Homo sapiens: one gene and its partners. The protein of the gene in region 2 purifies or fractionates together with the protein of the main gene of each other region. This does not show direct contact. Each region holds a gene or a part of one and is shown on either strand. Other genes may lie near its edges.

What was found.
Region 1: the proteins of UQCR11 (region 2) and SFSWAP purify together in Homo sapiens (affinity purification with mass spectrometry; one large-scale study listed by BioGRID and IntAct). This does not show direct contact.
Region 3: the proteins of UQCR11 (region 2) and DCAF13 purify together in Homo sapiens (affinity purification with mass spectrometry; one large-scale study listed by BioGRID and IntAct). This does not show direct contact.
Region 4: the proteins of UQCR11 (region 2) and ZC3H4 purify together in Homo sapiens (affinity purification with mass spectrometry; one large-scale study listed by BioGRID and IntAct). This does not show direct contact.
Region 5: the proteins of UQCR11 (region 2) and DDX46 purify together in Homo sapiens (affinity purification with mass spectrometry; one large-scale study listed by BioGRID and IntAct). This does not show direct contact.
Region 6: the proteins of UQCR11 (region 2) and RRP36 purify together in Homo sapiens (affinity purification with mass spectrometry; one large-scale study listed by BioGRID and IntAct). This does not show direct contact.
Region 7: the proteins of UQCR11 (region 2) and LEMD2 purify together in Homo sapiens (affinity purification with mass spectrometry; one large-scale study listed by BioGRID and IntAct). This does not show direct contact.

Annotation. Positions count from the first base shown.
Region 1 is NC_000012.12:131,749,090-131,752,589, forward strand, and holds part of SFSWAP (splicing factor, suppressor of white-apricot homolog), read left to right. Parts: intron 1-3,500.
Region 2 is NC_000019.10:1,602,663-1,606,754, forward strand, and holds the start of UQCR11 (cytochrome b-c1 complex subunit 10), read right to left. Parts: upstream 2,801-4,092; 5' UTR 2,748-2,800; coding exon 2,698-2,747; intron 1-2,697. UniProt on the Homo sapiens protein: Component of the ubiquinol-cytochrome c oxidoreductase, a multisubunit transmembrane complex that is part of the mitochondrial electron transport chain which drives oxidative phosphorylation.
Region 3 is NC_000008.11:103,441,670-103,443,953, forward strand, and holds the end of DCAF13 (DDB1- and CUL4-associated factor 13), read left to right. Parts: intron 1-1,125; coding exon 1,126-1,213; 3' UTR 1,214-1,784; downstream 1,785-2,284. UniProt on the Homo sapiens protein: Part of the small subunit (SSU) processome, first precursor of the small eukaryotic ribosomal subunit.
Region 4 is NC_000019.10:47,089,777-47,093,276, reverse strand, and holds part of ZC3H4 (zinc finger CCCH domain-containing protein 4), read left to right. Parts: intron 1-3,087; coding exon 3,088-3,310; intron 3,311-3,500. UniProt on the Homo sapiens protein: RNA-binding protein that suppresses transcription of long non-coding RNAs (lncRNAs). LncRNAs are defined as transcripts more than 200 nucleotides that are not translated into protein.
Region 5 is NC_000005.10:134,765,279-134,768,778, reverse strand, and holds part of DDX46 (probable ATP-dependent RNA helicase DDX46), read right to left. Parts: intron 1,863-3,500; coding exon 1,719-1,862; intron 1-1,718. UniProt on the Homo sapiens protein: Component of the 17S U2 SnRNP complex of the spliceosome, a large ribonucleoprotein complex that removes introns from transcribed pre-mRNAs.
Region 6 is NC_000006.12:43,027,361-43,030,099, forward strand, and holds the end of RRP36 (ribosomal RNA processing protein 36 homolog), read left to right. Parts: coding exon 1-117; intron 118-1,731; coding exon 1,732-1,868; 3' UTR 1,869-2,239; downstream 2,240-2,739. UniProt on the Homo sapiens protein: Involved in the early processing steps of the pre-rRNA in the maturation pathway leading to the 18S rRNA.
Region 7 is NC_000006.12:33,782,631-33,786,130, reverse strand, and holds part of LEMD2 (LEM domain-containing protein 2), read left to right. Parts: intron 1-1,611; coding exon of another isoform or gene 1,612-1,638; exon of another isoform or gene 1,639-1,670; intron 1,671-1,703; coding exon 1,704-1,779; intron 1,780-3,500. UniProt on the Homo sapiens protein: Nuclear lamina-associated inner nuclear membrane protein that is involved in nuclear structure organization, maintenance of nuclear envelope (NE) integrity and NE reformation after mitosis.

The DNA of each region.
Region 1 (3,500 bases), on a different chromosome or scaffold from region 2:
AAAATAGGCTTCGTGTTAGATGATGTCATCCAGCCGTCAGCTACTGTAGGTGCCCTGAGCACATTTAAGGCAGGTGAGGCTGTGCCATGGTGTTCGGTGGGTTATAGGTGGATTCTGTGCATTTTCCACTTCACGGTGTTGTCAGTGTATGGTGGGGTTGTCGGGAAGTAGCCTCGCTATAAGCCCAGGAGAATCCCGGCATGTCGTGGCAGCCTGAGGACAGCAGGAGCCCCTTGGCACACTGTGCCCTCCCCCGTTCATGACTAGTAATGGCACAGTTATTGTAAAGCTGATGTGGCTTTTGCCAGCCCAGACTTCAGTTTGTAGACTACAGCCCAGCTTGTAGATTTTATTTCTGTTGTCACCCTGTACTAGTCCAGAAATTCTTAAAATTTAGTGTTCACGAGAATTGCTGTGTACAACATACAAGGGGCTGTATACAAAATCCCTGTGTCCTATAGTTGGTAGTCAGTTTAAAGGGCTTCAGTCCAGTTAAAGGGTTCTGTGAGCTGTATGGTGCCACCATTGTGTGCGGCACGTGTCAAGCAGCTTCATGGTCACTGCAGGATATTTTAGCACTGAGGCATTTTAGAAGCAGTCCAGGCCGTGCCACCAGCTGGCATGAACTCACTCATTAAACACTTACTGAGGGCCTGCTCATGCCAGGAGCTGTGTGAGCGGCTAAGGTTTTGTGGTCACTATTTGGAGATATGGAGTCCTTGGGAACATAGCTGCACACCAGTCCTAGTGGCGCAGGAGTTGCCATAGGGCGTTGTTTACAGGGTCCCCACGCGAGCCCAGAGCAAAGGCCTCCTGAGTCTGCCAAGGAGGCAGAGGCTTCCCGAAAGAGGTGGCACTGGAGATAAGCTGAATAGGGGCCTCATGGCAGGCAGAGACCCTGTGAGGCCGTGCAAAGGACAGAGACCTGGGGAACAGAAGCCAGGGCAAGGGGTGGGCTGGGCAAGCGGCAGAAGCCCTTCGGGAGGCTGGCCCTGGGCTGCTCCAGATGACTTGTGCCCGTCCTGCCTCCCACCAGGGCCACAGTGTCTGGGGAAGGATGGATCTGACGTCCTCCCTTAGATCTTCACATCCCTGACACCCTATGAAGTGAGAATCTGGGAGAAGCAACCCAGGAACGGTGTAGCGGAATTCATGAACCACTGTGGTGTTGGTTCCCGGGCTGCCTCCGAGCATGGCAGTGCCATAGGACACGTCCCACATTCTCTGTCGGCAGACAGAGAAGTGTTTTCATCTCATCAAGCAACACATACTTTATTTCTCTTGGAGTCCTTTTGAGAGACAGGATGATTTTCAAATTTGATTAAAACCTTGGAGAGAATCACAGGTGTGTGTGGGGAAGAGGTGACAGCAGCAGTGGCTAGCAGCAGACCGCCTCACAGAGGCTGCGCGTGTCTCGGCTTCACAGCTCTCCTCTGTGAGAATCTCCTGGGTCTGGGTCAAGGGTGTGCCCAGAGCATTGTCAGCCTGAGTGGTTTTTAGCGTGGAGCCTCTGAAGCAAGTTGTGGACCTAGGCTAGGATGTCCCTGGAGTGTTTTCAGATTTGGGCATTTGTTTCATTTTTACACCTACAGGCAGCCTTTTTTTCTTTTTGTGAGCTCAGCTCAGGGGCTCACTCCATCACCCAAGCTGGAGCACAATGGTGCCATCAACACCTCACTGCAGCCCCAAACTCCTGGGCTCAAGCCATCCTCCTGCCACAGCCTCCCAAGTAGCTGGGACTGTAGATGTGTACCATGCCCAGCTAGTTTATTTTATTTTATTTTTTGGAGATGGGGTCTGATGGTATTGCCCAGGCCTGAAGCATCCTCCCACCTCAGCCTACCAAAGTGCTGGGATTATAGGTGTGACCCATGGCACCCAGCCTAAATTTTTCAAATTAGCTGACATTTTTGACATTTGTAGTGGATGAGTCTCTGAGCAGTCTGCCATTTTGCCGGCACTGCTATTTTTTTTAACACTTCGTTTTTATTTAACAAGATGGAAGGCTCAGGAAGGTCATATAGACTAACAGTCTGCGTGTTCTTTAAAGGAATGGCGCTCAGCTTTGAAAACAGTTTCTTCATCTCTGTTGTGTTCCAGTGTGATTGCACTTTACACAGTTACATAAAGAATGCAGGTATCAGGTTGGAGCTGCATAATATGTACTACTAGTTGAAATAATTATAAACCGTTTTGTTTTGTTTGTTTTTGTGAATTCAGATCCCGTCCTTTGTGGCCCCAGTTTAAAACATGTTTGGACACTTTTTAGGGGTGAGACTGACTGTCCAGAGCAGGACATGGGGTTTCCGTCCTTCCTGCTGAGGTGGGAGGCTGGAGACCTGACAGTAGCCAGTCGGTAGTGGGGTCAGTTCCGCCTGGCCCTCCCCAGAGCTAAGCACACACTGGGCTGCACTCTCTCCCCTGGAGTGCTGGCTTCGCCCTGGCTGAGAGGAAGCATCCATACATAGTAGCCTGATGGCTCCAGCAGGGAGTGGGTGGAAGCAGCAGCTCCCCCCTTCCAGGGATGACGTTGTCTCTTACAGAAGCACATGCTTATATTCGGATTCCTGATTTTGATAGGAAGCCTATGTTGGACCATCAGGTCAGTTCGTTGGTCCAGCACATACTCTGCTCAATGCAGAGGCTGCAGAGACAGTGAAGACAGGACCTGCCGCTGCAGGAGCCTCAGAGACGGTGCCTGCCCTGCTGTCAGCCTCCCATTGACATCCAAGGGTCTCATCCCCTGCTCCCGGCCTTTTCTCAGAAATGTTGCTCAGATATATCTGTGTTGACGATAATGTGGAGCACATCGAACCCACTTATCTTATTTTGAAAATTTGGAGTATTACTGTTTCTGTGTCATGGTGGTTGGTGTGTAACATGGAGCTAGAGAACAACGGTTTAGGAGTTCATCATGTATAATTAATTTAAATAAGTCATTAGCAGCTGGGGAATATGCCTACAGCACATAGGAATTATGCTGCCTCGCCAATCTAAGATGGAAAGGTCAAGATAGTCTAAGTTGTACTTCTGAAATTTTTCTCTGCATAGCATACATTACTGGAAACCATAGTTAAGCTTTTACTGTTTTTCAATGTTATTGTTTTAAGGTGAATTGATTGAAAGTGAAGATAAAAGTTCTTAATTCGAAAAATATTTTTGCCATCTCCTAATAAAGAGGAAATTAAATCTCTGTGTAGTCAGAACTACTTGCTTATCTACAACAGGACTGGAAATTAAATTTCGTAATTAATCATTGAATCTTCTGTGATTCGTGGTTCTGAACATTTAACCCCAAAAAGGATAAATGTACAGGATTTTTAATTGTTAAGACAGCGTGCCTCTACCCTACAGATACCTGCTTGTGTGCACAGCATAGGTGGCAAGACGGCATACATCACTGTCTGTGATGGAAAGGTCCAGACACAGCCTCAGTGCCCCTGGGAACTTTTATTTACTGAATAAATTCCTGCACAGCCTGTGTTGCTGGGGCCGGGGGC
Region 2 (4,092 bases):
GCTCTTCTCGAACTCCTGACCTCAAGGGATCCACCCACCTCAGCCTCTCAAGGTTCTGGGATTACACGCGTGAGCCACTGCGCCCAGCCCTGGGTTATTAATCACCAGAGAAGCCTGCTCATAAATATGCCCAGTGGGCCGGCCTCCGCCTCCCCTATCATCCTGGTCACCCCATGTAGGACCCTGTGGATTTGGACAGTGTGGGAAGAGCCCACAAAACCTGATTTCCACTAGCCACTGAGGAAGGACGTACAGACCATGACCACACTGACCAACGACCTCGTCGCCACGACAACCCCTTCCTCAAAGCAAGCCCCAGCAGGGCCTAGAAGGGGTGTGGACTGCAGGGTCCCCAGCTGGTGAACTGTGGCCCTCTCAGTCCTAAGTCTGAGACTCTGAGACACAACCCCACAGTGCCTCCTGGGGATGAGACCCGCTCCCTAGCCTCCCAAAGCCACTGCCTGGTGGCACAGCCCTGCACGGCCCCTCGCACGCACGTGTCTGCACCCCTTCCTCTCCCGCTTCGTTATTTTAGGTCAGCCCCACACCACAGGTCTCGTTTCTTTACCTTTCCTTGCCCACCAACCAGAATGTCCGCCCACAAGGGTTCGGTCTATTGGCGCGTCCCTAACACATAGTAGGTGCTCAATAAATGTTGGGCTGGGCGCAGTGGCTCATGCCTGTAATCCCAGAACTTTGGGAGGCCGAGGCAGGTGGATCACGAGGTCAGAAGATCGTGACCATCCTGGCTAACACGGTGAAACCCCATCTCCACTAAAAAATACAAAAAAAATTAGCCGGGCGTGGTGGCGGGCGCCTGTAGTCCCAGCTACTTATGGGAGGCTGAGGCAGGAGAATGGCGTGAACCCGGGAGGCGGAGCTTGCAGTGAGCCGAGATTGCGCCACTGCACTCCAGCCGGGGCGACAGAGCAAGACTCCGTCTCTAAATAAATAAATGAATAAATAAATAAATAAATGCTTGCTGTTGGATGAAAGCACGGATGACGGGTGGTCCCCGCTGTGACTGAACACAGAAGAAGCAGACCTGCTGCACCCGGGAGGGGCTGCACTGGCTACCATGGGCCACTGGGTTCTCAGCTAGGAGCAGGCTTCCTCATCCCAGGCCTGAGTTACCCACGCTGTAAAACGCCACCGGCACCATCACATTCCACTTGAAGGTCCCAGTCAGCTCCACCGTGCAGACCCTGTCCCCGACCTGTCCCCCAGTCTGGGATAGAGGAAGTATGTTCTGGCTTCCGGAGACACTGCCAATCATAAGCCTTTGCTTTTTTCTTTTTTAGAAACGGAGTTTCGCTCTTGTTGCCCAGGCTGGAATGCAATGGCACAATCTCAGCTCACCACAACCTCCACCTCCCGGGTTTGAGCGATTCTCCTGCCTCAGCCTCCCAAGTAGCTGGGATTACAGGCACGCGCCACCATACTTGGCTAATTTTGTATTTTCAGTAGAGACGGGGTTTCTCCATGTTGGTCAGGTTGGTCTCAAACTCCTGACCTCGGGTGATTCGCCCGCCTTGGCCTCCCAAAGTGTTGGGATTACAGGCGTGAGTCACTGCGCCCAGCAGCTCTAAATTTTTTTGTAGAGATAAGGTCTTGCTGTGTTGCCCAGGCTGGTCTCAAATTCCCAGGCTCAAACGATCCTCCCACCTTAGCCTCCCCAGTAGCTGGGACTACAGACAGGTGCCACCATGCCCTGATAATTTTTTGTTTTGTAGAGATGGGGTTTCATTGTGTTGTCCAGGATGGTCTTGAACTCCCAGGCTCAAGTGATTCTCCTGCCTGGGCCTCCCAAAGCACTGGGATCACAGGCCGGAGCCACTGCACCCGGCTAAGACCTTGCTGCTTTTTTTTTCTTTTCTCTTTTTGGGACACAGTCTCATTCTGTCACCCAGGCTGGAGTGCAATGGCGCAATCTCAGCTCACTGCAACCTCCTCCTCCCGGGTTCAAGCGATTCTCCTTCCTCAGCCTCCCGAGTAGCTGGGATTAGAGGCACCCGCCACCACGCCTGGCTAATTTTTGCATTTTTAGTAGAGACGCGGGTTTCACCACGTTGGCCAGGCTGGTCTCGAACTCCTGACCTCAGGTGATCCACCTGCCTCGGCCTCACAAAGCGCTGGGATCACAGGCGGGAGCCACCGCACCCAGCCAGGCCTTGCTTCTTAGCACCCCACGTGGAAACACCAGACAACCCTACGGAGGCCACCCCCAGCCCGGCTTCTATGGGGGCCACCCCTATGCCGTCCCGCTGCCCACGTGGGCTCAGGCGCAGCTGAAGCTTTCACGCTCCTTGTTAAAAATCATAAAAACCAAAATAGTGGCAAAGGCCGAAGATGCCGCGAGTGCTGGGCTGGGGATCGGGACTCGGCACCTTCTGGGCGCTTCCGTCCAGGGGGTCACCATTCGGATCCCCCGGTAGAGATGGGGAAACTGAGGCTTGGAGCGGCCTAGCCGCGGAGCCGGGCATGCTGGGGTTTGGCCTTGGGTCCGTCACGTCCCGTTCACGCCGGGACGCGCCGCTCCGCCTCTCGGCCTCAGTTTCCCCCTCTGTCACCGGGAACAACAAGGGACCTGGGCCCGGCCCGGCCCGGCCCCCGGAAACGCGCACAAATACGGAACGCAGCGGCGCGGGGCTGGGCCGAGGCGGGAGCGCGGATGGGGCCGCGGGTCGGCGTCCTCACCAGTTCTTGACCAGCTCCCGGTAGCGTGGGCCCAGGAACCGGGTCACCATCGCGGCGGAGTCGCACCCTCAGGATGACCCTGTCCAGCTGACCCGGCTACACTGCGCAGGCGCGGCCGCGGCGCGCACGCGCGCGGGGAGGGCGGGGGGGGGGGGAGGAAAAAAAAACATCATCCGCCACTGTGCGCGCAGACCCGGAAGCCACTTACAGTAACTTCCGGCGAGGGTTGGACGACCGCGGAGAAGTGGTCCGGAGTGGGCGGCGTTAGGGCGGTGCTTTCTGGCCACGTGGTCTGGCGGCCGATTGTGCTTCTGGGCTCCGCGGGGCTACCTGCCAGTGATTTTGTGCGCCTAGTATGTGCCAGAACGTTATTTACAATGAAGGAAACTGAGGTCCAGCGGGGAAGGGTCTTGCTCAGAGTCACACAGAGGGGAAGAGCTGGGATTGGAGCCCACTTTTGGAGGCGTCAGGCGTTGTTCCTGATTCGCTGTAGGACTTTGGTCGAGCGGCAGTGCTTCCCTGAGCCTCAGCGTTGCCCGTTGCTTGGAGGCCCTGTCGGAAATCTCTTTGCAGGATTCCGTTTGCGAGCCTGGGTTATTCCTCATTCCGGCAGCAGAGGGTGGCCTGGCTCCTTGCTCGGTGAACGTCTCTGGATGCTCTTAGCTGATGACAGGCAGGTCTTTCTGCCTCCTGCTTTCCACCGCACCAGGCTCGCTTGGGCTCGCCTTTCTCCAGTCCCTGCTTCCTCTGCTCTCCCACAACCCGGCGCAGCACCGTACATGCTCACTCAGCTCCCAGCTTCCAGCCTCCCCCCTGCACACCGGGCCGGTGTGGGCAGAAGGAAGAGGGGCATATTCCCAGACACCGCCATTGCACTTTTGTGCCTTTTCCCCCATATTCAAGAGTTGCCTCCCTCAGGAAGCCCTCCTGGACTGCCTGACCCACAGGCACCTTTACAGCATGAACGGAAAGGCCATAGCCTAGACGGGGCACTGGGCGTGATTTGTCTCTCGGGCGCCAGCGTCACTTGCAGGCCTCGTGATAAGGAATGGACACCGTGGGTTCTTCTGCCCAGCCTGGCCTGTCCTCCTGGGGTCAGCCCCTCAGTACACCCCAAGCCTGCAGCTCTCTGGGGACTGCGGGTGCTAACCCATCCCTATCCCTGGTTAAGGACTCAGGGTGGGAGCCGGAAATAGGTTTTGGACACCACAGTCTGGGCACTGTTTTTCTTTCTTTTTTTTTTTGAGACGGAGTCTCGCTCTGTGGCCCAGGCTGGAGTGCAATGACACGATCTCGGCTCACTGCAACCTCCGCTTCCCGGGTTCAAGCTTCTCCTGCCTCAGCCTCCCAAGTAGCTGGGACTACAGGCGTGAGCCACCACACCTGGCTAGTTTT
Region 3 (2,284 bases), on a different chromosome or scaffold from region 2:
TCTCACCAAAAACAAAGTTAACTGCCATTCAAGGGAGTAGTTTATGTGCTATTATTTAATAGTATGTTAGTGATGTGTTTGAAGACTTCTACAGAAGGCCTTTTCTTTTTTCTTTTTTTTTTTTTTGAGACGGAGTCTCGCTCTGGAGTGCAGTGGCACAATCTTGGTTCACTGCAAGCTCCGCCTCCCGGGTTCATGCCATTCTCCTGTCTCAGCCTCCTGAGTAGCTAGGACTACAGGCACGCGCCACCATGCGCGGCTAATTTTTTGTATTTTTAGTAGAGACAGGGTTTCACCATGTTAGCCAAGATGGTCTCAATCTCCTGACCTCGTGATCGCCTGCCTCGGCCTCCCAAAGTGCTGGGATTACAGGTGTGAGCCACCATGCCCCGCCCAGAAGGCCATTTCTTTTTCTTTTTCCCAAAAAAGGGAAGCAGTGACTATCTGAGAATGGGAGAACTTCCATTACCTGTTTTTGAGAATATGTTTAAAGGACAAACGATGAAAATGAGTTACCAAAATAAGAAAACACTTGCTCATATTAAAAAATTATTGTAAAAAATGTTTTAAAAAATAATTTCTGATGTAGCTGGAATTAAGAGATTTTGTGTATTTTCCAAGTTAAAGAATTAATCTATAGTAGAGCTCTTTTCTTAAGTAAAAAGTGTTCTGATATACTTTATTATAACATGACATCTATCATTTTGGATATAGAGCAGAGCTACTACCACCACCACCATTTCCCGTGAAATATTCTTCTCTTTGAAATACTTGAAGTCATGCATGAAATTCTAAGAGCTCTTTATTTTTCAATTAGAATATACAAATGGCTCTTTTTTTCTGTCTTTGGGTAGATGTTGCAGTAGAATCACTTTTAGAAATTTTATTAACTGTGGAAGGTTTTTAAACTTAGTAAAGGACCCTATTAGGTAAATATGATAAGAAGCAATTAAATAAGTAAAGTTGATTTCTTGGTACTAGCTTCCTTTTACCTATTGTCATCGTGAAAATATTTTTTTAAATAGGTGTTTTTCTAGTGAAAGAAAATGCTTTGATTTTTCTGAGAAAGTTTTCTTTAAGATGAGTTCCCATAACTTGCTTATATTTTGTATATTTTATTTCTAGGGAAGTGAATCGTATTAAACACAGCAAGCCTGGATCTGTGCCACTTGTGTCAGAGAAGAAGAAACACGTAGTGGCAGTTGTAAAATAATTGGTATTCCTAACAATCCTGATGTATAATTATTTGTTACTTTTGATTTGAGAACTCTACAAATAAAAGTGCTGGGACTAGATTAATTGCAAACATTTTAGTTATATGTGTAGAGCTTTATTGTTACTCCTTTTAGCTACCCTGAAAAATGATCCTTAAAGGTGGCCTAGTTGGTAAGACTGTTTTATCCTTAATCTGCATTCTTCTTTCATTGTAGAATACAGTATTTGCAACTCATTTTTTCTTGTTTTTATTACAGATATACTTACTTTCTCTTTGATCTATTATTGTAGACACTATACATTCAAATTGACATTTAAGACCAAACATCTCTTATGTTATCTTTAATATTACTTTGAATAATGATTGCAATGATGTTTCTTCCTGTGATTCCACATAACATTTAGAATAATGATGTCAATTTTTTACAACTGAATTTATTTCTAGTGCTTTACTTATATTTGGCTTTTTGACTCTTTTAAAACAATCAGCCTGCATTTATATAACTTTTATAAATAATAATATAATTTGGGTCAAGTTAAGATATTAAAAGTTCCTTTCAGCATTGAAACTTTGGCCTATTTTTGGTAAATAATTTTCAATCTCACTAAATCCTAAATAGCTCTGTGTAACATAGGTTTTTCTTTTTTTAATCATCAACTTAATAAACTTTATTATAAATATGTATAAATCCAAATTTTAGGAGATGTTAAGTAAAGAAGAGATTTTAAAATCCAAAGAAAAGAATGTGTTAAGAATACAGTCATCACTCTGTATCTGTGGGAGATTGATTTCAAGATGTACCATTGATGCCAAAATCCAAGGATGCCCAAGTCCTTGATATTAAATGGCATAGTATATGGATATAACCTCTGCATATCCTCCCAAATACTTAAAATCATCTCTAGATTACTTATAATACCTAATACAATGTAAATGCTAAATAAATAGTTGTTATACTGTATTGTTTAGGGAATAATGATGAGAAAAAAAGAGTCTGTACATGTTCAGTACAGATGCAATTTCTTTTTTCCAAATGCTTTTGAGCCACAGTTGGTTGAGTCTATGGGC
Region 4 (3,500 bases), about 45 Mb from region 2:
TTCCCCCAGAAAATCCCATAAGAGAAAAGCAAATCATTTTTTTTTTTTTTTTTTTTTTTTTGAGGCAGAGTCTCACTCTGTCGCCCAGGCTGGAGTACAGTGGTGCAATCTCAGCTCACTGCAAGCTCTGTCTCCTGGGGTCGCACCATTCTTCTGCTTCAGCATCCTGAGTAGCTGGGACTACAGGCACCCGCCACCACTCCCGGCCAAGTTTTTGTGTTTTTAGTAGAGACAGGATTTCACCGTCTTAGCCAGGATGGTCTCCATCTCCTGACCTCGTGATCCGCCTGCCTCGGCCTCTCAAAGTGCTGGGATTACAGGTGTGAGCCACCGCGCCCGGCCGCAAATCATCTTATGATTACTTTACCCAGTATTCGTTGGCACGTGGGTGTCCGGGTTTGGATGAGAAATGTTTTGTCTTGTTTGTTTATTTATTTATTTATTTATTTATTTATTTATTGAGACGGAGTCTTGCTCTGTCGCCTAGGCTGGAGTGCAGTGGGGCAATCTCGGTTCACTGCAACTTCCACCTCTCTGGTTCAAGCGATTCTCCTGTCTCAGCCTCCCGAGTAGCTGGGATTACAGGCATGTGCCACCTTGCCCGGCTGATTTTTGTATTTTTAGTAGAGACAGGGTTTCACGATGTTGGCCAGGCTGGCCTCGAACTCCTGACCTCAGGTGACCCGCCCGCCTTGGCCTCCCACAGTGCTAGGGTTACAGGCGAGAGCCACCGTGCCCGGCTGGTTGAGAAATGTTTTAAAGTTAGTAGGTCTTTAAAGCTGTCCCAGGTATCCCATGACCCAGCATCATCCATCACAACAAATGATTCATTGTCCAATACCATAGTTGAGATTGATCTACTGGTGTAGGTTTGGCCTTCAAACCTGAGGGAGGCAGGAAATGGAGGGAACATTGCGTGCTTTTTATGAACTAGAGCTGGAGGCATTTTAAAGATCTGCTAAAGTACTTGTATGTGTGTCTGTGTGTCTAGCTGTATTTTGCATTGTCCTGTTTTTCTATAATTCGGATTTTTTAAAATTAGTGGGCTTTATTGTTTGTTTGTTTGTTTATTGAGATGGGATCTCACTCTGTTGCCCAGGCTGGAGTGCAGTGGTGTGATCTCACCTCACTGCAGCCTCGAGCTCCCTGGGCTCAGGTGATCTTCCTGCCTCAGCCTCCTAAGTAGCTGGAACCATGGGCCATAACGCCAAGGCTAATTTTTGTACTTTTGGTAGAGATGGGGTTTCAAAATGTTGCCCAGGCTGGTCTCAAATTCCTGGGGTCAAATGATCTGCCCACCTCGGCCTCCCAAAGTGCGGGGATTGCAGACATGAGCCACCATGCGCAGCCGACTTTTTTATGCGTTCATTCATTCATTTATTTAGAGATGGAGTCTCGCTCTGTCGCCCAAGCTGGAGTGCAGTGGCACAATCTCGGCTCACTGCAACCTCCGCCTCCCTGGTTCAAGCGATTCTCCTGCCTCAGCCTCTCAAGTAGCTGGGATTACAGGCGCCCACCACCACACCTGGCAAATTTTTTTTTTTTGTATTTTTAGTAGAGACGGGGTTTCACTATGTTGGCCAGGCTGGTCTCGAACTCCTGACTTTGTGATCTGCCTGCCTTTGCCTCCGAAAGTGCTGGGATTACAGGCGTGAGCTACCACGCTTGGCCCAACTTTTTTTTTTTAATTTTAATTATTTTTTGAGACAGAGTCTCGCTCTGTCGCCCAGGCTGGAGTGCAGTGGCGCAATCTTGCCTCACCGCATCCTCTGCCTCCCGGGTTCAAGTGATTCTCACACCTCAGTCTCCCGAGTAGCTGGGATTAGAGGCGCCCATCACCATGCCCGGCTAATTCATTTTGTATTTTTAGTAGAGACTGGGTTTCACCATGTTGGCCAGGCTGGTCTGGAACTCCTGACCTCAAGAGATCTGCCTGCCTGGGCCTCCCACAGTGCTGGGATTACAGGTGTGAGCTACTGTGCCCGGACTTTATTTTAATTTTTTTGAGTTGTTGTTTCGCTGTGTCACCCTGGTTGGAGTGCAGTGGTGCAGTCTCTGCTCACTACAACCTCTGCCTCGCGGGTTCAAGCAATTCTCCTGCCTCAGCCTCTCAAGTAGCTGGGATTACAGGTGCCTGCCCCACACTCGGCTATTTTGTTGTTGTTGTTGTTGTTGCATTTTTGCATTTTTAGTAGAGATCGCATTTCGCGTCTGCATCTCCTGACCTTGTGATCTGCCCGCCTCGGCCTCCCAAAGTGCTGGGATTACAGGCATGAGCCACCGCGCCCAGCCCCCTGACTTTCTTTTTTAGAGCTGTTTTAAGTTTATTCAAAATTGAGCAGGTAGTAGTAGAGTTCCCTTCTCCCCTCTGCCTGCCCCCTTCCCTGCCTCCAGTTTCCCATTACCAATGTCTTGCATTGTTGTGGTAACTTTGTTAGAATTGATGAGCCGGTATTGATACATTGTTATTACTTAGGGTTGTATAGTTCTCTGGGTTTTGCCCAATACACACTTTATTGTTACATATTCGTCGTTACTCCATTGTCTGGATATACCAGTTTGTTATCCATTTACCTGTTGAAGGATGTCTTGGTTGCTTCCGTTTTTATGAGTATCTTTAACTTCTTCTAGTACCACTTGGCATTACCACACTTTGGAAAGCATCATTTGAGATGGCTGTCCAGCCTGGCTGCCAAGCAGGCCATTTATTGAATTCCAGGGCCCTAGGAAAATTGTGACCAAGCAGCCCCCGCCTGCTTCCCAGGCCCCTCCACGTGCGCTTGCTCTGCATCCTTGGGAAATGCTCCCTTCTTCTCCCCTTTGTTCATCAGGGATCGGGGGTCTGTGGTTCTGTTTTCTTTCTAGTTCTGGCCCTTTATGAAGAACAGAAACACTTGGGCCCGCTGCTACTCCCACTCCCTGGTACGAGAACCAGTCCCCAGAGGGGCTGGAGACCAGCAGTGCAACCCTGGGACAGTAGTGACACCCAGACAGACATGTTCGTTTAGGGAACCCTGGGTATCTTGGTAGTCTGCACCCACGGCTGTGGGATCCGGCTCACCTCTTTTCCCCATCTCTGGGACGCAGTCCCACCAGCAGTACCCCCCATCGCATGCCACGCCCCTGCCCAAGAAGGCATACTCCAAGATGGACAGCAAGAGTTATGGCATGTACGAGGACTACGAGAATGAGCAGTATGGGGAATATGAGGGCGACGAGGAGGAGGACATGGGCAAGGAGGACTATGACGACTTCACCAAAGAGCTGAACCAGTACCGGCGTGCCAAGGAGGGCAGCAGCCGCGGCCGAGGTGAGCCCTGCCCTTACAGTTTCTCCTCTGGGGCATCGGAGCCACCCGGGCCAACCCCGGTGGCCTGGTCTCACAGAACCTCAAGTTTGGTCACTTAGGGTTGGGATAAGTGTACAAAGAAGGGCCAGGCTCTGCATGTGCATGGCACAGGAGACCGGAGAGATCACCCGCTGGGCTGTGGTTGGGGTGG
Region 5 (3,500 bases), on a different chromosome or scaffold from region 2:
TTCTAATGATTTTTTAATGTTAAAATAACCTGCCATTCTTGGAATAAACCCAACTTGTTTACGCACCCCAACTTACGGCATCTCATAATGAATAAAATTTCTTAATTTTAATGTAATCAAATTAGTCAACCTTTTTTCTCCTTTATAATTGGTGCTTTTTAAAGTAGTTTAGAAATCCTTCCAGATTTGATGTAAGATACCTAGAGGTGAAGAAGAAGATACTCTCTGGCACAAACTTCTAAAAGGTTTAGAATTTTGCCATCTAATTTGGTCTTTGCTTGGAATTGCTTTTTGTACACAGAATAAGGTAGGCAGTCTTATTTCATAAAAGGATACTAGATATCCCTAGAGCAATTTAAAAATTTTTCTGGCCAGGCACGGTGGCTCACGCCTTTAATCCCAGCACTTTGGGAGGCCGAGGCGGGTGGATCACGAGATCAGGAGATCGAGACCATTCTGGCTAACACGGTGAAACCCCATCTCTACTAAAAAATACAAAAAATTAGCTGGGCATGTTGGCACACACCTGCAGTCCCAGCTACTCGGGAGGCTGAGGCAAGAGAATTACTTGAACCCGGGAGGCGAAGGTTGCAGTGAGCCGAGATTGCACCACTGCATTCCAGCCAGGGCAACAGAACGAGACTTTGGCTGTTAAAAAAAAAAAAAAAATCTTCACTTATTACATCATCACCTCTGTCATCTATCAAATTACCATGTGTATGGATGCCTTTCTGGGCTCTTTACATGGTTCACTAATCTGTCTGTCCACTGCTAAACAAATTGCACATTGTCTTAATTTCTGTTAACTTTTTTTTGTTTTTTTTTTTTGAGAAGGAGTTTCACTCTTGTTGCCCAGGCTGGAGTGCAACGGCATGATCTCACCTCACCGCAACCTCTGCCTCCTGGGTTCAAGCGATTCTCCGGCCTCAGCCTCCAGAGTAGCTGGGATTACAGGCATACGCCACCACGCCCAGCTAATTTTGTATTTTTAGTAGAGACGGGGTTTATCCACAATGGTCAGGCTGGTCGCCAACTCCCAACCTCAGGTGATCCGCCCACCTTGGCCTCCCAAAGTGCAAGGATTACAGGCGTCAGCCACCGCGCCTGGCCTAATTTCTTAACTTTTAAGACAAGTCTTGGCTGGGCGCGGTGGCTCAGGCCTGTAATCCCAGCACTTTGGGAAGCCGAGGTGGGCAGATCACTTGAGGTCAGGAGTTCGAGACCAGCCTGGCAAACATGCCAAAACCCCATCTCCACTAAAAACATAAAAATTAGCTGGGATATTATGTCTGCCTCTTCATATAATCCCAGGACTTTTGGAGGCCTAGGTGAGAGGATTGCTTGAGTCTACAAGTTTAAGGTTAGTGAGCTATGTTCTTGCCACTTCACTCCAGCCTGGGCAACAGAGTGAGACCCTGCCTGAAAAGAAAATGACAGAGTTTCTACAAAGATGTCTATAAAATACATTTCTGATTGACAGTTATGTATTAAGTAAGAATACAATGTATTGAATGTTAAAACTGACAGAATCTATTATTTTCCAGTTGAATTATAAACATTATAGCCAATTAAAATAAAACACTGCCAACAGTTCATGGTAGGAGCCAAATGCAGTTAATTCTCTATAAATACAAACTTACAGGGAAAAAAAAAAAAGGCGCAGAGAAGGGAAGCAGTCCCCAGTCTGCACTATAGATGCAGCCCAATGATAACATTACCTATTCTCAGTTTTCTTGCTTTTATTTCCAGGACTGGAGGATCGGGATCGCCGGCCCCGGCTTCTACTCCTTGAGCGTCTCCTGTCTCTACTTCGAGATCTTCTTCGCTCTCGGCTTCTGTCTCTCTCTCTACTTCTGGAACGTCTGAAAGGGGGACACTTTTCATTTATTCTATGACCAAATGGAGCTACTATTTCAGATCAGGGGATTCTGTCCCACATTGAAAGAATCTTAATCACTACCATTATTAAAGGTGGAGGTCTCAATGAAGTAAAGCCAAGTCTTATAAGTGCTCAACGAAAAAAATGAGAATACTAATTTATTTCTTTCATTTTTTTAAAGACAAAGTCTCACACCTGTCACCCAGGCTGGAGTGCAGTGGCACAATTGCAGCTCACTGCAACCTCTGCCTTCTGGGTTCAAGTGATTCTCCTGCCTCAGCCTCCCCAGCAGCTGGGATTACAGATGTGCATCACCATGCCCGGCTAATTTTTTTTTTTTTTTTGGAGACAGAGTTTTGCTCTTGTTGCCCAGGCTGGAGTGCAATGGCGCAATCTCAGCTCACCACAACCTCCATCTCCTGGGTTAAAGCGATTCTCTTGCCTCAGCCTCCTGAGTAGCTGGGATTACAGGCATGCACCACCATGCCCAGCCAATTTTGTATTTTTACAGATGGGGTTTCTCCATGTTGGTCAGGCTGGTCTCGAACTCCCAACCGCAGGTGATCTGCCTGCCTCAGCCTCCCAAAGTGCTGGGATTACAGGCGTGAGCCACCATGCCAGGCCAGAGAATACTAATTTCATAAAGATGTTTGTGAAAAAACCATAATAAGTCTGTAATTAACATCGATTGAAAATCGATGGTCTAAGATAGAATATCTAGTTTCAGATAGCCTAAACCTAAGTATAAGGATGGGCATAATGGGTCTACTAAAAGATCACTAATCTGAAGATGAAGAGGCAAGAATTTCTATCCTGCTACTCCTGGTAACTAATGACATGATGAAGGTCAGATCTCCAACTTTCTGGGTCTCAGTTTCATCATCTATAAAATATGGAGACTTCACTAGACATCTTTAAAATCCCTCTTGCTCTAAAATCTTGTGATTCTACTTTCACACCCAAAAGTCAAAGACCAAATGTTAAATAACCATTTTCACTTAAGTACTTGAATTAATTGTGTGAAATTGTTCCTAGGACCACAAAATGTGAAAATGCTATCCACATTGTCACGGGTGAATATTTTCCCTGAATCCTACGTAACAACAATGTACTCCAATGTCTGAAAAGGATAAAGTTAAATTCTTTCTATGATCCACTCACAACACAATCTTGTCTTCCTTTCCTATTTTAATGAGAAACTGGGCAAGGTATGGTATCTCATACCTGTAGTCCCAACCCTTTGGGAGGCCACTAGCAACACAGTTAAGACCCCCATCTCTATGAAAAGCTTTTTTTAATTGGCTGGGTGTGGTGTGCACAGAAGATTATTTTCTTTTTTTCTGTTTTGAGATGGAGTCCTGATCTGTCGCCCAGGCTGGAGTACAGTGGCACCATGTCGGCTCACTACAACCTCCACCTCCCAGGTTCAAGCAAGTCTCCTGCCTCAGCTTCCCGAGCAGCTGGGTTTACAGGCATGCACCACCACACCTGGCTAATTTTTTTTTTTTTTTTTTTTTTAGTAGAGACGGGGTTTCACCATGTTGGCCAGGCTGGTCTCAAACTCCTGACCTCGTGATTCACCCACCTTGGCCTCCCAAAGTGCTGGGATTACAGGCATGAG
Region 6 (2,739 bases), on a different chromosome or scaffold from region 2:
AGCAGCAAGAAATGGCACAGCAGGAACGAAAGCAACAGCAGGAGCTGCACCTGGCCCTGAAGCAAGAACGTCGGGCTCAGGCCCAGCAGGGCCATCGGCCATACTTCCTGAAAAAATGTGAGTTGGGCACAACTGTTGCTAACAGGGACAGGGGTGCAGGGGCCATGGTGGTAGAGTCTTGTGTTGGGGTGTCCCTGATCCCCTTTAAGGAAGGCATGAAGGCTGGATCCCATGGTAACTTGGAGGAAAGTAGAAATAGTAGGGAGTTGTTTGTAACCAGTCTTGTATCCCTAATTAGATCATGGCAGGCATTGTCACCTTTATTTCTTGGTCTACACTCCCCACTTCCCAACCCCCCCCCCCCAACACACACACAGTGAGTTTTATCTCTTGGTCTACACTACACACACACACACACACACACACACACACACACACAAACACAGAGTCAGTTTTATCTCTTGGTCTACACACACACACACACACAATCAGTTTTATCTCTTGGTCTATACTACACACACACACAGAGTTTTATCTCTTGGTCTACACACACACACACACAATCAGTTTTGTTTCTTGGTCTACACTGCACACACACACATGCACACACGCTGGGCCAGGCACATAGGTGTTCATAGTTGGTTGAATTGAGTAGTACTGAGATCATATAAAAAGTCATCAGTTGGGCTGGGCACGGTGGCTCACGCCTATAATCCCAGCACTATGGGAGGCCAGTGTGGGGGGGTCACGAGGTCAGGAGTTCGAGACCAGCCTGGGGGCCAACATGGTGAAACCCTGTCTCTACTAAAGATATAAAAAAATTAGCCGGGCCTGGTGGCGTGCACCTGTAATCCAGCTACTCAGGAGGCTGAGGCAGGAGGATCACTTGAGCCCGGGAGGTGGAGGTTGCAGAAAGCCTAGATTGCACTGTTGTACTCCAGCCTGGGCAACAGCGTGAGACTCCATCTCACAGGAAAAACAAACAAACAAAAAAAAGTCACCAGTTGGGCCGGGCGCAGTGCCTCACACCTGTAATCCCAGCACTTTGGGAGGCCAAGGAGGGCAGATCACGAGGTCAGGAGTTCAAGACCAGCCTGGCAAACATGGTGAAACCCCGTCTCTACTAAAAATACAAAAATTAGCTGGGTGTGGTGCTGTGCATCTGTAATCCCAGCTACTCAGAAGGCTGAGGCAGGAGAATCGCTTGAATCTGGGAGGCGGAGGTTGCAGTGAGCTGAAATCGTGCCACAGCACTTCAGCCTGGGTGACAGAGTGAGACTCCATCTCAAAAAAAAAAAGTCACCCGTTGGCCAGGCGCAGTGGCTCACGCCTGTAATCCCAGCACTTTGGGAGGCTGAGGAGAGCGGATCACCTGAGGTCAGGAGTTCGAGACCAGCCTGGCCAACATGGCGTAACCCTGTTTCTACTAAAAATACAAAAAAATTAGCCATATGTGGTGGTGCGCGCCTGTAATCCCAGCTACTCCGGAGGCTGAGGCAGGAGAATCACTTGAATCTAGAAGACGGAGGTTGCAGTGAGCCGAGATCGCGTCACTGCACTCCAGCCTGGGTAACAGAGCAGGACTCCGTCTCAGAAAAAAGATAGAGGGGCACCAGTGAGCTTTAAAGAACTCATGTATCCAGCATAATGGCTTGGAGTTACTGACCTGGTTTGGGAAAGAATAGGGGCTTCCTTCTTTGTTCACCAACTTTCATTCTCCCTGTCATTTAGCTGAGCAGCGCCAGTTGGCACTAGCTGAGAAGTTCAAGGAGCTGAAACGCAGCAAGAAATTGGAGAACTTCTTGAGTCGAAAGAGGCGACGAAATGCAGGCAAGGACAGGAGACATCTCCCTTTGAGCAAAGAGTAATAAGGAACTATCCTCTGCTCTGCCACTGCCCCAGGGAGACATGGATCTGTGAGGACAGATTTGGCCACGGCTGGTTTCCGTTCAAGGGCAAGGATCACAGCTGCCCTTGAATCTCATTGCCTCAGAGAAGACTAGAGGGCTCTTGGACTATCCCTAGGGCTACACAAGAATAGTTCAGCCTTCTGCCATGCCACACAGCCTCAGCTTGAATCTGGTTCATTGCGTCCTCGTGTTCTTCTCTCATCCTTGCCTTAAACCAGGGATTCTGATACCGAAGAAGAGGGGCCAATGAAAACCATGGAGTCTGTTCGTGACTCCCAGGGCTGGGACATTATGTAGGAGCCACTTCATAAACATTCTCTTTACTCATCTTTTTATTCTGTTTTTTGTGGCCTTCTTTTTGTGTTTCCCCCCCGAAACAGAGTCTCGCTCTGTCACCCAGGCTAGAGTACAGTGGTGCAATCTCGCCTCACTGCAACCTCCACCTCCCAGGTTCAAGTGATTCTTGTGCCTCAGCCTCCCGAGTAGCTGACATCCGCCACCAAGCCCAGCTAATTTCTTTCGTATTTTTAGTAGAGATAGAGTTTTGCCATGTTGGCTAGTTTGATCTTAAACTCTTGGCCTCAAGTGATCTGCCTGCCTCAGACTCCCAAAGTGCTGGGATTACAGGCGTTGAGCCACCGTTCCGGCCTTAAGGCCTCTGCTTTTATGTGGGATTTGTGGGTAGCCTAGAACTACTTTTTAGTGGGCCACATATTGGGATAGGCAATAAAGCCTAAGGCATCTACAACTGGGAAGTCAGATCAGAAACCCCTCCCACTTAAATCTGGGCCCCTCAAGGATGACAAGATCATTTAGTGGGTGAACCAAT
Region 7 (3,500 bases), on a different chromosome or scaffold from region 2:
AGAAGATATGGGGCAGTAAATTTTCAGGTCTTAAATTGTACCAGGAGGAGTCTTGTGCTGCCAGAGGGCATGACTTAGTAGTCTAATTAAGTGTGCAATGCCTGGCCTCCCAAGTCCTTAGTTAACATCTCTAGTAGCCCAGGGGCTGGGAAAGAAAATGACGCATGGTCCTCTGGCCAGCCCTGCATTGACTGTCTTACTCATGTAAATGAGGGGGCATCCTGGTGCAGATAACGGCTTTTATTTCTCTTTGGCTTCGGGTGTGTCATAGTTGGGGGTGTTTTATTACATCCATTTATTGGATTCATCCACCAAATATCTTTGCTTCCCAATTGTTTTGTAAAAACAGATTCATAGTAAGTTTAATCTGCCTTCTATCATAAAAACTGTAGTTGATGATGAGAGGAAGTGGCCCAGAAACACAGGCAGCCAGAGGGGAAACTGGAATTTGAAGACTTAAAACAAAAACAGGAAAAAATAACTTTCTGTAAGACTTCTCAGTGCTGTTAGTTTTGTCTTTTAATTAGAAAAAAGTTCCATGGTTTCTATTTCTTGGTCCTTCACATCTCTAAATGAATCAGACCCACAAGTGAATGGCACATTTGTTCCCTGGCCTTCTCTGATCTGGACACACTCAGGCTCCACTTGAGTGAGCCCAGACAGGTACCCTCCAGGTCCTAGCTACAGATGCGCTCCGTGGGCAGACGGCATTCAGCACCTGCCAGCGAGGGCTTCAGACGCAGATATCCCTATTTGTAACCATTCAGACCTTCATCAGAGCATCAGAAAGCAGGGGCTGGGCCATCTCAATGCAGGCTTTGTGGAGCTAAGATTTCATGGGGCACCCTTGGCCTTTCTGGAGGGTGGACACAGGAACAAGCAGGTGGGGACGTGTTTCTTGGCTTTGGTGAGGCTCTTGCTGAAAGTCTTATTCTTTGCATGGCTCCAGGCTTACCGAGATCACAGACGGGCATTTGAATTTCAGATTCATGTTCTTTCCCTTTTCGGTCGTTGAAGACGGTGACACTTTGTGTTTTTCTTTCTGCCTTTGTGCTGCTGAAAACGTGGGGACAGGCTGGGAGTGGGTGTGTTGTCTTAATCAGGCCGTCTCGTTGTCTGGTACCGTCTGTCCTCCTGTTTCCTTTAGGTGGTAGCAGCCTCTGCTGAGTGGTTTGTGTGAGTTCGCACTGAATCCTACCACAATCCTTACTCAGATGAGGGCTCTGAGATTCCACCTAACGGGAGACGAGATGGCAGCTGCTGACATTCTGCCCTGTCTGCAAGCTCTCCTAGCTCTTCCAGCTCTCCCATCTCTGCAAACTCCGACAGCAGTTGCTCTTCCTCTGAGGAAGCTGAGCGACTGCATCATCCCCCGACCACGTCGCCTCTGCTCAGCCCTCTTAATGGCCGTCATTCCAAGGGAAAGGCAGGAGCCAGGAGCCTCTGGGATGCAGCCCCTTGGTTACAGTGTCTGCTTTCAGCTTTGCCTCTGCTTCTCCAGGGTCTTTCTCAGGCAGTTAACCCAATATTTATCAACTCTCTCCCTAGGCCCAGCACTTGGCAGAATTTTTTTCTATTTTGTAAAAGTATGAGATATTCCTTGCTGTTTAGTATTTGACAGTGTGGCTGGAGAAGTAAAGATGGACAGACGGACCCCTCCCACCCACCCCTCCTTGCTGACCACTTGTCCCGTGCCTTTCCAGTTCTGTCAGGCCAAGCAGAAGGCAGCCTTGCTGGAGCTGCTGCATGAACTCTACAATTTCCTGGCCATCCAAGCTGGTGAGTAAGTCACGTAAGTCCTGAGATTCCTCTTGTGAGAGCTATGGGCGGCTGACCCGGTTCATCAGGCTTAGTTACACTGCTGCTGGCCAGCGAGACACTCCCTGGTTGTCTCTCAGAAGGCATATTCAGAAGCCGAGTCTCACCTTCTCGCCTCCTCACTCAGGCACATCTTTTATAAGCCTTGTGTTTGAACAAAACATATTTGATTCTTGCTCCTCTTTAAGGGAGGTCCTGGCATGTGAACAGGCCTTCCTGCAGCTGTTCTTCCTTCTTGGGGATGCCCACTACCTAATGCTTTGGGGGTCTCTGTTGGCATGGGAAGGGGCCAAGCCCCAGGTGTTGTCAGGATCTGTGTCCTTCACCCTAGAGGGACCCTCTGAACCAGGTGGTTGGCTGGGCCCGGGAGAGGCCTCTTGCCTGTGCAAGTAGCAGATAGTCTGTGTAGTGGGCCCTGGTGTCACATCTGGTCCTGATCACCATGTGGCTGTGGGACCTCGGACAAAGTCCCTGATCCTCTCAGGGTCTTCATCTCCCTGTCTGACCAAGGGCTCTTGGGTCTGTCTGTTCTCTACAAATGAGAGTCAAGTGCTGTCCTCTAAAGGAGGGCATTCTCAGCACCTCTGTGAAATGCCCCTGAAAATGCATCCAGAAGATGCATCCCCTACTGTTTTATTTGGTGAAGTTATTCCTTGAGGCCAGAGATACCACCTGCATTATTATGTCCTGCCCGACGCCTGGCATCCAGGAGGCTCTCAAAATCACTTGCAGTTGACATAGGTGAATATCAGCATGTGCGCCTTGTGTTAAATGCGCTGGACACAAGAACCAGACAGAGCAGTTCTATCTTAAGGGATATTCAAGAGGCGCCTCTTACCTGTGGGGTCAGAGGACAGGTCTTAGGATTGTGAGGTCAACCCTTGTCTAAGGTTTCACTGGGAAATTAGGGTCGGGTGGACTTCTCCTGGGCCCTCAGTCCTCAGGGTCAATCTCATGAGCATCAGCTCTTCTGCCTCCTCCCTCTTGAAAGTGAGAGATGAGATGGTAGGGGAGGCATCCATGAGCACTTGGAGGAGAAACAGGTACTGGGGCTCCTGCTCACAGCATCATAGGAATTCCTCTGTACGGCCCAGGTGCTTGGGATGTCAATTCTGACCTAAGAGAGTGTTCCAAACCTTTGTGTCTCAAATGTGGTCCAAGGACCCATAGCATCTGCATCACGTGGGAGCTCACTAGAAATTCAGAATCTCAGGTCTCATGCCAAACCCAGTGAATCAGAGTCTGTATCTTAAGATCCCCAGGGGATTTGAGTGCACCCTAAAGTTGAGAAGCACTGCTCGAAATTGGGTCCTAGTAGATATTTCTCCTCCATCCTACCCTCCATATGTGGTCTTGCCTTATGCCCTCAAGGGCCCTGGCACCTGTTGCCCTCCGACAAGCCTGGGGGGCCGCCTTGAAGGTACATATCTCATTGAGACAGGAGTGTGCCTCACAGAGGCTCCCTAGTAGTCCTCAACCCCTTCCATGCCTCTCCTGTTAGGGATCCGCTGTGGGCTGGGCACTGTGCAGGCCCTTGCAGTGAGATGACTCAGCTCCAGGTCCTGCCTGCAGGGCCCAACCCCGGCTTGGGGTCTACTGGAAGAGACAGGCCACCTACCTCCCTGACCACTGGGTGATATAAAATGTGATTAGACAAGAACCAAGAGGCCAGAAGTTCTGGG